Homo sapiens: one gene and its partner. The protein of the gene in region 1 purifies or fractionates together with the protein of each later gene. This does not show direct contact. Each region holds a gene or a part of one and is shown on either strand. Other genes may lie near its edges.

Region 1 (5,356 bases):
TGGCCATAAGTACCAATTGGTTTACCTTGGTTTGATTGACTGGGGTGAACCATCATCATACAAGTAGCTTAGGCAAGGGACTCTGGCATTCAGGTGAGTATATCTGATTGTGTAACAAAGTCCCTTAACCTCTGACACTCAGCTCTGCCATAAGAAAGGGAAACAGTGATATTCATTCTACAGGACTTTTGTGCCTCGTCCATAGTGGCTGCCCATTAAATTGGGGGATTTATTTGTTTTTACCCCCAAATAATAAAAGCACAGAAAGAAAGAGCCAGTCATATATGAATGTGGTTAAACTAGCCTGACCCCAAATCCTTAGAGCTGAGGTGTGAGTATGTAATGTGACTCTGGTCCACCTGTAGTCCTGGCTTAATGCTTTTCCATTTTAAAAAGCATCCCTCACCGTCCTACCTGTGCTGTGCTGGGGCCAGTTTGTACATCTCAACTCCACGTCAGTGATCTCACATTGGGAGTTTGAAAATGGCCATGTGGCTGTGTTTACACGATTCCAATCACCAGGGCTTTTTTCTCTTTTTGTTTTTCCCTACTGGAGAGCCAGTTGTTCATATTCCTCAGCACACCTCTACTCCATGACATGGAGACGCTGGCCTCCTTCAGCCACCTGCGCCTACCTCGTGGTAAGGATGACACTCAATGGAGGGACAGGATGATGCTGCCCTCAGCCCCTCCTCCGAGGCTTCCTGACATGTCTGATATCCAGAGCCTCCTTCCTGTGCTTCAAAATTTCAGGCCTGTGTTAAAATGCGTCACCTGGAGCTTACATGAAGCCACCTCAGAAATCATTTCCTTAGGACAGGCTTCATTCCCAAGGTCCAGTTTTGATGGTGGAGAGGGAAAGAACAGGAGAAACCTGACTGCCTGGTGGGAGCAAAAGGCCCTGAAGGCAGCTGGGCAGGGCAAATAGGTACTTCCCCAGCCCTGCTCTGGGCAGATGGGCAGCTGCAGAGCCCTGGAAAAACCCAGTGAAAGCCAGAAGACTGTGAGTCAAAGCTGGGACCCGCTTCCCATCTGGGCTCCATCCTCCCAGCACCACACCCATGAAACAAACAAAATAACCAAGCAACACCACCCAGCAACACCCCAGGCTCACAGGTAGCCCACAAAAAAGGTATTGCACCCAGATTCTCTTATGTGCCATTATCTGTGGCTCTGTGGCACGACCATGCAGAGATGTCATGTGTGGAGACCAAGTGGACTCTTGTCATGTGGAGGAGGAAAGAGAAGGAAGTGTGTGCTGGTGTGTTCATGTGTGTGTGTGTGTGTGTGCACATGTGTGTGTGCATGCGTGTGCATGTGTATGTGTGTGCACATGTGTGTGCTTCTACATGCCACACAGAGCCTAGTTTGGAGTTCAGCACATGGCAGGAGCCCGGTCAATATTTTGTTGACTTTTGTGCATTTTGACTTCTTATGTTAGAGTCTCAAAAGCAAAGCCTGGCTTGTTATAAGCCTCCTCAGCAGTGCATTTAAAACAGAATTCTATTTCCAGAGATGCTTCATAAACACTTTGGATTGACAAAATAAACCCCAGCCCTCAGCTCATGGGAGGTCCTCATAGTTTCCTTGGTGTAAACGTGACTGTGTATGTTCATGCATGTGTGAGAGGCAGAGACATGGGGACAAGCGGGATGCAGTTTTCTGCAGAGCACCGAGTCTCACAGGGCCACTCACCACCGAGCCCGTTCCAGGTGTACACCCCCGTCGGCCCCAGGAATGTCTGGTAAGGGTTGCTGATGCTGTTGTAGAAGGTAAACCCAGAGCTCAGCAGCGACGTGATCAAACTCAGGACCAGGAACAGGATAGTCACCGAATGCAGAGTTTTTTGGGAAGAATTATTCAGTATCTCTAAAACTAAAACAATGTTTTGTGAGTGCATAGCACATAATGCAAACACCAGCTCTGGCCTGGCATTCCTCCCCACCCTACCCTCTTAGTGACTTGAGTTACTGGTTGTTGGATGTCAGTTAGAGATACCAGGAGCCTCCAACCCATGCAAGAACAAGACCCGCATTCCCCACTGGAGGCTGGTTGTTGAATCAGTGGTTGGATGGGTATAACCGCGACACTACAGATAACTGGACATTTATGCTGATTTTGAAGTCTCCTAGGAAAGAGTTTACCTTCCTGGATACCGGCAGCAGGGCTGGACAGCCTTCCCATTACTGAGCTCGGGCTCCGTCCTTGCCAAGGTGCTTTTCCCAGTTTCATCAGTGCCCCTGTTGCTCTGAGCACTAACTTGGCTTCCACTTGGAGGCACTCACAGGGTAGGTCACCCTGAAAACCTGTGCACTGTGAGAATCCCACAAGCCCTGTGGCATCTGGGGTAATTGCATGAGTCAGGGGTGGCATCAGCAGAGAAAAGCCTAAGAAAGGTGACCAGGAAAGTGGAAGCTGAAGGCTGACATAAGAAAATGACTTCTGTTGGTGCAAATCGAGTTGTGGGTCCTACTTCAGACTCCACTTCCCTGGGGCCAGAGAGGACCAGATGCCCAGAGGGCTCCAACGCTGGAGGCGGCTGGGAATTCGCCCATGAGTGAGCCTTGACTCTGCTTTCCAAGGAGAACTCTTCTGAATCCTAACAGCATTGGATGAATTTGCATATTTCTTAAGTGCAGAGGAGCTCCAGGCATGGAAGGACACTCTTATAACATGAAGCAAAGGTGCCCTGGCTGTCAGTCCTGGGTTCCTGGTTTTGCCTTTCTCAGGCTTCTGACTGCCACCAGCCATCTCCTCCACCGGCTCTTTTGTGGAGGATGCAATGCCCAGGCACCACAGGGCTGCACTTACATGTAAGCCCAGCCCAGCCACGGGCTGACAGGGTGTGTGAGGCCCTGTGGAGGAGGCCAGCACATGAAATAGTGTTTACAAGGATGTTCCATGAAAGTCACCAGGACATGGGAGAAAGGGATTAGGGAGAAGAGTTCCGAGTCACAGTAAGGCCACAGCAACATCACTGGGAACAGGTGGGTAAAAACAAGTGAAAGGCTCTTTGTTTCCGTTCTGGTTTCTCTGGTCTCCAGGGAGAGAGCCTTGGAGCCCTCACCTCTTTATCTGGAGCAGCTTTAAAGAACAGAAAGCGAAAAGGCCAGGTAGGATCTCTGGTTTCTGGGCCTAGGGGTGGTATTCCCTCAGCATATGCCCACGGGTCGAAGGTCAAGGAGTTCCTAATGGAACCAGAGTGTTTCAAAGAATTCAGAATGGGAGGCAGGAGACCCCAGGGTGCTGTGGGCACCCATGGGAGGGGTCACCAAGTCCCCTCCCCTTTCCCTCCTTGCATCGCCGTAATGATTTAAAAATTCCTCATTATGCTGAGCCCAAATCTGCATCTCCACGACTTAAACCCAGGGGTCCTAATTCTCCTTTGGGAATCATACAAAATTCACTTGCTCCTTTCCTGCCTGGCAGCCTTTCCAAATATTTGAGGAGGGATATAAATCCCAACATGATTAACAGCCCACATTTCTGGAGTATTCTCTGCTGAGTGTGACTGCAAAGTTCCTGCCAGCCTGGCCTCCTACACATACTTTATTCTGACTCTATTTCTCTTTCTCTCTTTTTCTTCTGTTTTTGGAGACAGGGTCTTGCTCTGTCACCCAGACTGGAGTGCAGTGGCAAGATCATCACTCACTGCAGTCTTGATCTCCCGAGTTCAAGCAAAGAATCCTCCTGCCTCAGCCTCCGGAGTAGCTGGAACTACAGGATGTGCCACCACGACCACGCTCAGCTAATTTTTAAAATTTTTTTTTTTGAGTTGGAGTTTCACTCTTGTTGCCCAGGCTGGAGCGCAATGGTGCGATCTCGGCTCACCCCAACCTCCGCCTCCCGGGTTCAAGCAATTGTCCTTCCTCAGCCTTCCAAGTAGCTGGGATTACAGGCATGCACCACCATGCCAGGCTAATTTTGTATTTTTAGTAGAGATGGGGTTTGTCCATGTTGGTCAGGCTGGTCTCGAACTCCCAACCTCAGGTGATCTGCCCGCCTTGGCCTACCAAAGTGCTGGGATTACAGGCATAAGCCACCACGCCCGGCCTTTTAAAAAATGTTCCATAGGGACAGGATCTCACTATGTTGCCCAGGCTGGTCTCCAATTCCTAAGCTCGAGTGATCCTCCCTCCTTGGCCTCCCAAAGTGCTGGGATTACAGGCCACCACACATAGCCAGATAGACGTGGGGCTCCCAATGAGACCCGACAATCCCCTTGGACAGGAGGACGTCATCACTCCATTTTTGAACCTCTTAATTCTATTTGTTCACTATTGTTTTCTTTTTTGGCTTTTTAATCAGCAATGTTCTATGAGGAAGAAAAGTTTCCTCCCATTGAACAGAGTGGGCATGAAGGAGATGTGGCCAGCAGCTTGCAATCAGGTGCCTGAGAAACAGCCTCAGGGGCTGCTGGCAAAAGGGTTCTGTGGTGAAGACCCTCATCCCAAGCGGTGCAGGCCTCGGGGTGCAGCCTCCTAGACCGGGAGGGGGAGAAGCCCCAGAAGCAGCAATGACTGGTAACCCAAGGGTTCTGGCTGCAAGGGAGAGTGAGAAAGTGCAGGAAAGAAAAGGGGAGGAGAGAGAAAAGGGCAGGAGGAGGGCAATGTGGATACGCCTCACAGCGGTTGGCATGGCCGCATGTGCCTTGAAAACCCATGGGAGAAGGGAGCAAACCAGGAGAAGACTGGGCAAGCCTCAGCTCAGTGGCATGAGGACGATGAATTCACCACCCTGCTCCTCAAGTGGAACTGGGGACTGTGAGCAAAGTCCAGCTCGCACAGGTACAGCCTACTTGTGCTCAATGGTGACTGGACTATTTTGCAATTTCTGCTAATAACCCATAGAGCGTGGTGAAATTCTCAGCATAGTCTCTGGCTATGCATCCCAGGGAAGGGCTCTAGCGGGACCTGGGTCACGCCAGCCACTGCCTGTTGCCTGGGCAGGGACGGGTGGGGCCTGCTGGGCCTGCCTTCTGGGTGGGTGGGATGTGGCCACCTGGGCTGGGACCTTTTTTTCCATCCCTGACCTCAGGTGAAATTTCTTGCCTCTGCCTATTGCTCGCTGTGGAGGTGCAGCCGTTGGGGGATTAATATTGCTACAATTTAGCACACACTTGTTTTGAAAGTAATAGAGGGGGACACCGGAGGAGAGAAGGAAAAAATCTACAGCACGTAGGACACACCTGTTCAGGGGGACAGATCAGAGGCTGCAGATGAGTTACCATAAGAGGGAATCGCTTCCCATTCCACACTCGCCAGTTCCTCCTGGACGCTAAAGGGGAAACTCCAGGATATATCCCAAAGTTTGCTGGGGACTAAATAAACTCACTCCTTAGCAAAAAAGGAGCTGT
Region 2 (4,428 bases), on another chromosome or scaffold:
GCCCTGATTTTACTTGTTTTATATACTGAAGTTCTGCTGCCTTAAAAAAAAAAAAAAAAAAAAAAGGTTGAAAAGCACTGCATTAGAACCACAGAAAACTAAGCCTCTGAACACTCAACTTCCCCATGGCATCCCAAAAACCTAAGCAGGAATCTAAAATCAACTTAAGCTGGTCCTGTTTATGTTTCTGATTATGCCAGGTGGAATTCTTAGATTAAGAATATTTTGGCCGGGCGCGGTGGCTCACGCCTGTAATCCCAACACTTTGGGAGGCCAAGGCAGGTGGATCATGAGGTCAGGAGATCGAGACCATCCCGGCTAACACAGTGAAACCCCGTCTCTACTAAAAATACAAAAATTAGCCAGGCGTGGTGACGGGCGCCTGTAGTCCCAGCTACTCGGGAGGCTGAGGCAGGAGAATGGCGTGAACCCGGGGAGGCGGAGCTTGCAGTGAGCCGAGATCACGCCACTGCACTCCAGCCTGGGCGACAGAGCAAAACTCCGTCTCAAAAAAAAAAATATTTTGCCATGCTATAAAATAAAATCAACTAGTAAGTTCTCCAGTCTCAAGAAAAGGAAACAATGGTGTAAAATAGTAGTTCTCACACTTGGTTGCACATTAGAATCACCTACAGGAGCTTTTAAAAAATACAAATGCCTGGGCCCCAACCCAGGTACATTAAGTGATTCTAATATACAGCCAAAACTGAGAACCAACAGTGTACAGAGTTCAGAATCTTTCCAAATTTGGCTTTTATGATTTGAGTTTTCTGTACCTAATTTACCATCCTAGTGGTGGGTATATTCGCCCATTTCTCTTCCATTTTAAAGGGTAAAGTGTTTAGCTGAATAAAGCCAAATACCAACCATAATTTGTGTTATGAAATGACAACATGAGGCAGGGTGCTGTAGCTCATGCCTGTAATCCCAGCACTTTGGGAGGCTGAGGTGGGCAGATCACATGAGGTCAGGAGTTCGAGACCAGCCTGGTCAACATGGTGAAATCCCCATCTCTACTAAAAACACAAAAATTAGCCAGGCATGGTGACATGAGCCTGTAGTCCCAGCTATTCACGAGGCTGAGGCACAAGAATCACTTGAATCTGGGAGGCAGCAGTTACAGTGAGCTGAGATTACGCCACTGCACTCCAGCCTGGGTGACACAGCAAGACTCTGTCTCAAAAAAAAAAGACAACATGAAAAAAGTAGGAAGTGGTAAAAATATAGTTGACTCCATACCTGCAATGCAAATCTACAAGAAGCAGTGGAAAGATGATGAAAAAGAAAAAGTAAAAAACCACAATGAAGAAAACTGTGGTCAGTCGAAATGGAAAAATGCAAAAAAAGAAAAGGAAGCCAATGTTCAGTAAAGGTAACACAGGCTGTTGGGTGTTTGCCAGTGTACACTATCTTCGGGAAAATGAGCATCCAAGGGGAAAATGAAAAGATCTCTTCCTAACAGCTATACAGTCAAGGCTGCTGGAAAAGGCTCAGGAAGTTAAACACAGAAACTCTGACTCTACCTTCTTTTTTCACTTTGGTGACAACATTCTGAGTTTCTGACCATCGTTCCACAATCTCCTTGCAGATATTAAGGAGGGAATCTTCTTCCTAGTTGGAAAAGCAGACCAATTAATTTCCTGAGGGAGCCCTCAAAAACAATAGTAACCTCAAAAAAGCCTATGAAGAAAGCACAGCTCTCCATGCTGTGAAATTATGGAAGGGTCTGGGAGCCACAATAGAGTATGTTTCTTTTCTGAGGCTCTGGACACAGAATTGATCCTGCTTGTGTGTCCCAGAACCCACACCTCCTACATCAAGAACAGCCACTCCATCCTGATAAGCTCCAAGGGAAGATTCATACCAACTCAGGGCAGCCTTCCTCATTCTCTCTTAAAATATTTATTTTATTTTTAATTGACAAATAATAACTGTATATATTATATATATGTAGGGTACCCTGTGATGTCTCAATATATGTTCACATTGTAGAATAATTAAATCAAGCTAATTAACAAATCTATCACCTCACATATTTCTCATTTTTTTGGTGATGAAAACATTTAAGGCTGGGTGCAGTGGCTTACGCCTGTAATCCCAGCACTTTGGGAGGCTGAGGAGGGCGGATCACTTGAAGCTGGGAGTTCAAGACCAGCCTGGCCAACGTGCTGAAACCCCATCTCTACTAAAAATACAAAAATTAGCCGGGTGTGGTGGCACATGCCTGTAATCACAGTACTCGGGAGGCTGAGGCACAAGAATAACTTGAACCCAGGAGGCAGAGGTTGTGGTGAGCCGAGATCACGCCACTGCACTCCAGCCTGGGAGAGGGGAGAGAAATTGTCTCAAAAAAAAAAAAGAAAGAAAGAAAGAAAACATTTAAAATGTACTCTTTTAGTAATTTTGAAGTATACAATGCATTATTATTTATTTATTATTATTACTTTTTAGAGACAGGGTCTCACTCTGTTACCCAGGCTGGAGTGTAGTGGTGCAATCACAGCTCACTGTAACCTCAAACTCCTGGGCTCAAGCAATCCTCCTGCCTCAGCCTCTCAAGTAGCTAGGACTGCAAGCATGTACTACCACACCTGGCTAATTGAGTTTGTTGTTTTTTTTAAAAGATGGGGTCTCACTATCTTACCCAGGCTGGTCTCCAGCTCCTGACCTCAAGCAATCCTCCCATCTTGGCCCCCTAAAGTGTTGGGATTACAGGCCTGGGCCACCACATCCAGCCGATTATTACTTATTATAGTCACCATTCTATGCAACAGATCACTAAAGTATATTCCTTCTGTCTAACTGCAATTTTATACCCTTTGATCAACAATCTTCCCTTTTCCCATCCACCTCCCCCAATTCTTTTGGAGCAAAAACCTGTTCCCTAAGTCAAAACTCCTCTGTGAAATATTCCTTGGCTGACGTATACAATTCAGAACCTTCCCTAAGGTTATCAACTTTCATGCTAGATCATATCCATTAGCTTGCTGACACATAATAAAGAGGAGATACATGACAAAATGGTCTCTTGTCCAACCATCCCGCTGTCCATTTTAGAGAAGCATACATATTCTGCATACCAACCAATCTCCCTCCTCAGCATGATATAACAAAAATCTTGTCTTTAGTGTTAGAGATACTTAAGTTCAAATCCCAGATCTGTGAGGAAGTTTCTTAACTTTCTGATCTTCACATCCTCCCAGGATTTTACTGAGGATAAATGAAAATGTATATAAATGCCTACCCTACTTGTCAAAGAACAAGCATCTAATAAACACGAGCACTTCCCTCCATCTTCATTACGGCTGCATTCCCCACCTTCACGTTCTACCTCTCAGGGCAAGCTGTCAGCATTCACATTTATTAAGCATTTACCATGTGCCAGGCACTGCTCTAAAAGCCTTACATGAGAACTCTCAATTATTAAAATAATGCCATTAAGTACTATTTTACTCTCAATTTATAGAAGAGGAAACCAAAGCACAGAGGTTAATTACTTTGCCCAAGGTCTTACAAGTAATAATGGATTAAACACAATTTGAACCCCAGCAGTTTGGCTTAGAGCCCATGTTCTTTTTTTTTTGAGACGGAGTCTCGCTCTGTTGCCCAGGCTGGAGTGCAGTGGCGCGATCTCGGCTCAATGCAAGCTCTGCCTCCTGGGTTCACGCCATTATCCTGCCTCAGCCTCCCAAGCAGCTGGGACTACAGGCGCCCGCCACCACGCCCAGCTAATTTTTTGTATTTTTAGTAGAGACGGGGTTTCACCATGTTAGCCAGGATGGTTTCGATCTCCTGACCTCGTGATCCGCCTGCCTTGGCCTCCCAAAGTGCTGGGATTACAGGCGTTAGCCACCGCGCCCAGCCGAGCCCATGTTCTTAACCATCTCCCAAAGAAAAGTGGAGAGTCAGAACACAGACTTATTATGTATATCCTTATTTTGTACCCAGCAAAGGATTTCTTCCTCTACCTTGCATCCTTTTAGCTACATGCTAGACACACAGAACTTCCTTGGTCCAGAGTTTCAATAGTTCATGGGTTTCCCCCAACCCCCACCAGCAAGAAAAGCAAAGAAACAGAAAAAGAAAAAAGGATGAGAAAGTGGTACAGCTCTTTTAAAATCCCCCACCAAAAGAAAAAGAATGGCAGGAAAAGGAGCAGCAGAGAGGCAAAAGAGAACGGGAACTCTTAAGAGGACAAAGTGGTTTATTTCCTCAGTCTCCTCATCCAAATCAATGTAGTTCAATCATCCATTCCTTCATTTATTTATACAGAAGGTGCCTGCTATGTTCAAGGCACTAAGAGGAAAGTTTATCCTACTTACAATGCTCCTTTTTCCCTGGCACTTATCACTTTGTAACATACTATATAATTTACTAGTGATGCTTTTCCATGCTAGAATGTAACCGCATGAGGGCAGGAATTTCTAT

The links. The genes of interacting proteins can lie anywhere in the genome.
Region 2: the proteins of CLRN3 (region 1) and CCDC43 purify together in Homo sapiens (affinity purification with mass spectrometry; one large-scale study listed by BioGRID and IntAct). This does not show direct contact.

Annotation. Positions count from the first base shown.
Region 1 is NC_000010.11:127,882,001-127,887,356, forward strand, and holds part of CLRN3 (clarin-3), read right to left. Parts: intron 1,876-5,356; coding exon 1,696-1,875; intron 1-1,695.
Region 2 is NC_000017.11:44,682,349-44,686,776, forward strand, and holds part of CCDC43 (coiled-coil domain-containing protein 43), read right to left. Parts: intron 1,612-4,428; coding exon 1,524-1,611; intron 1-1,523.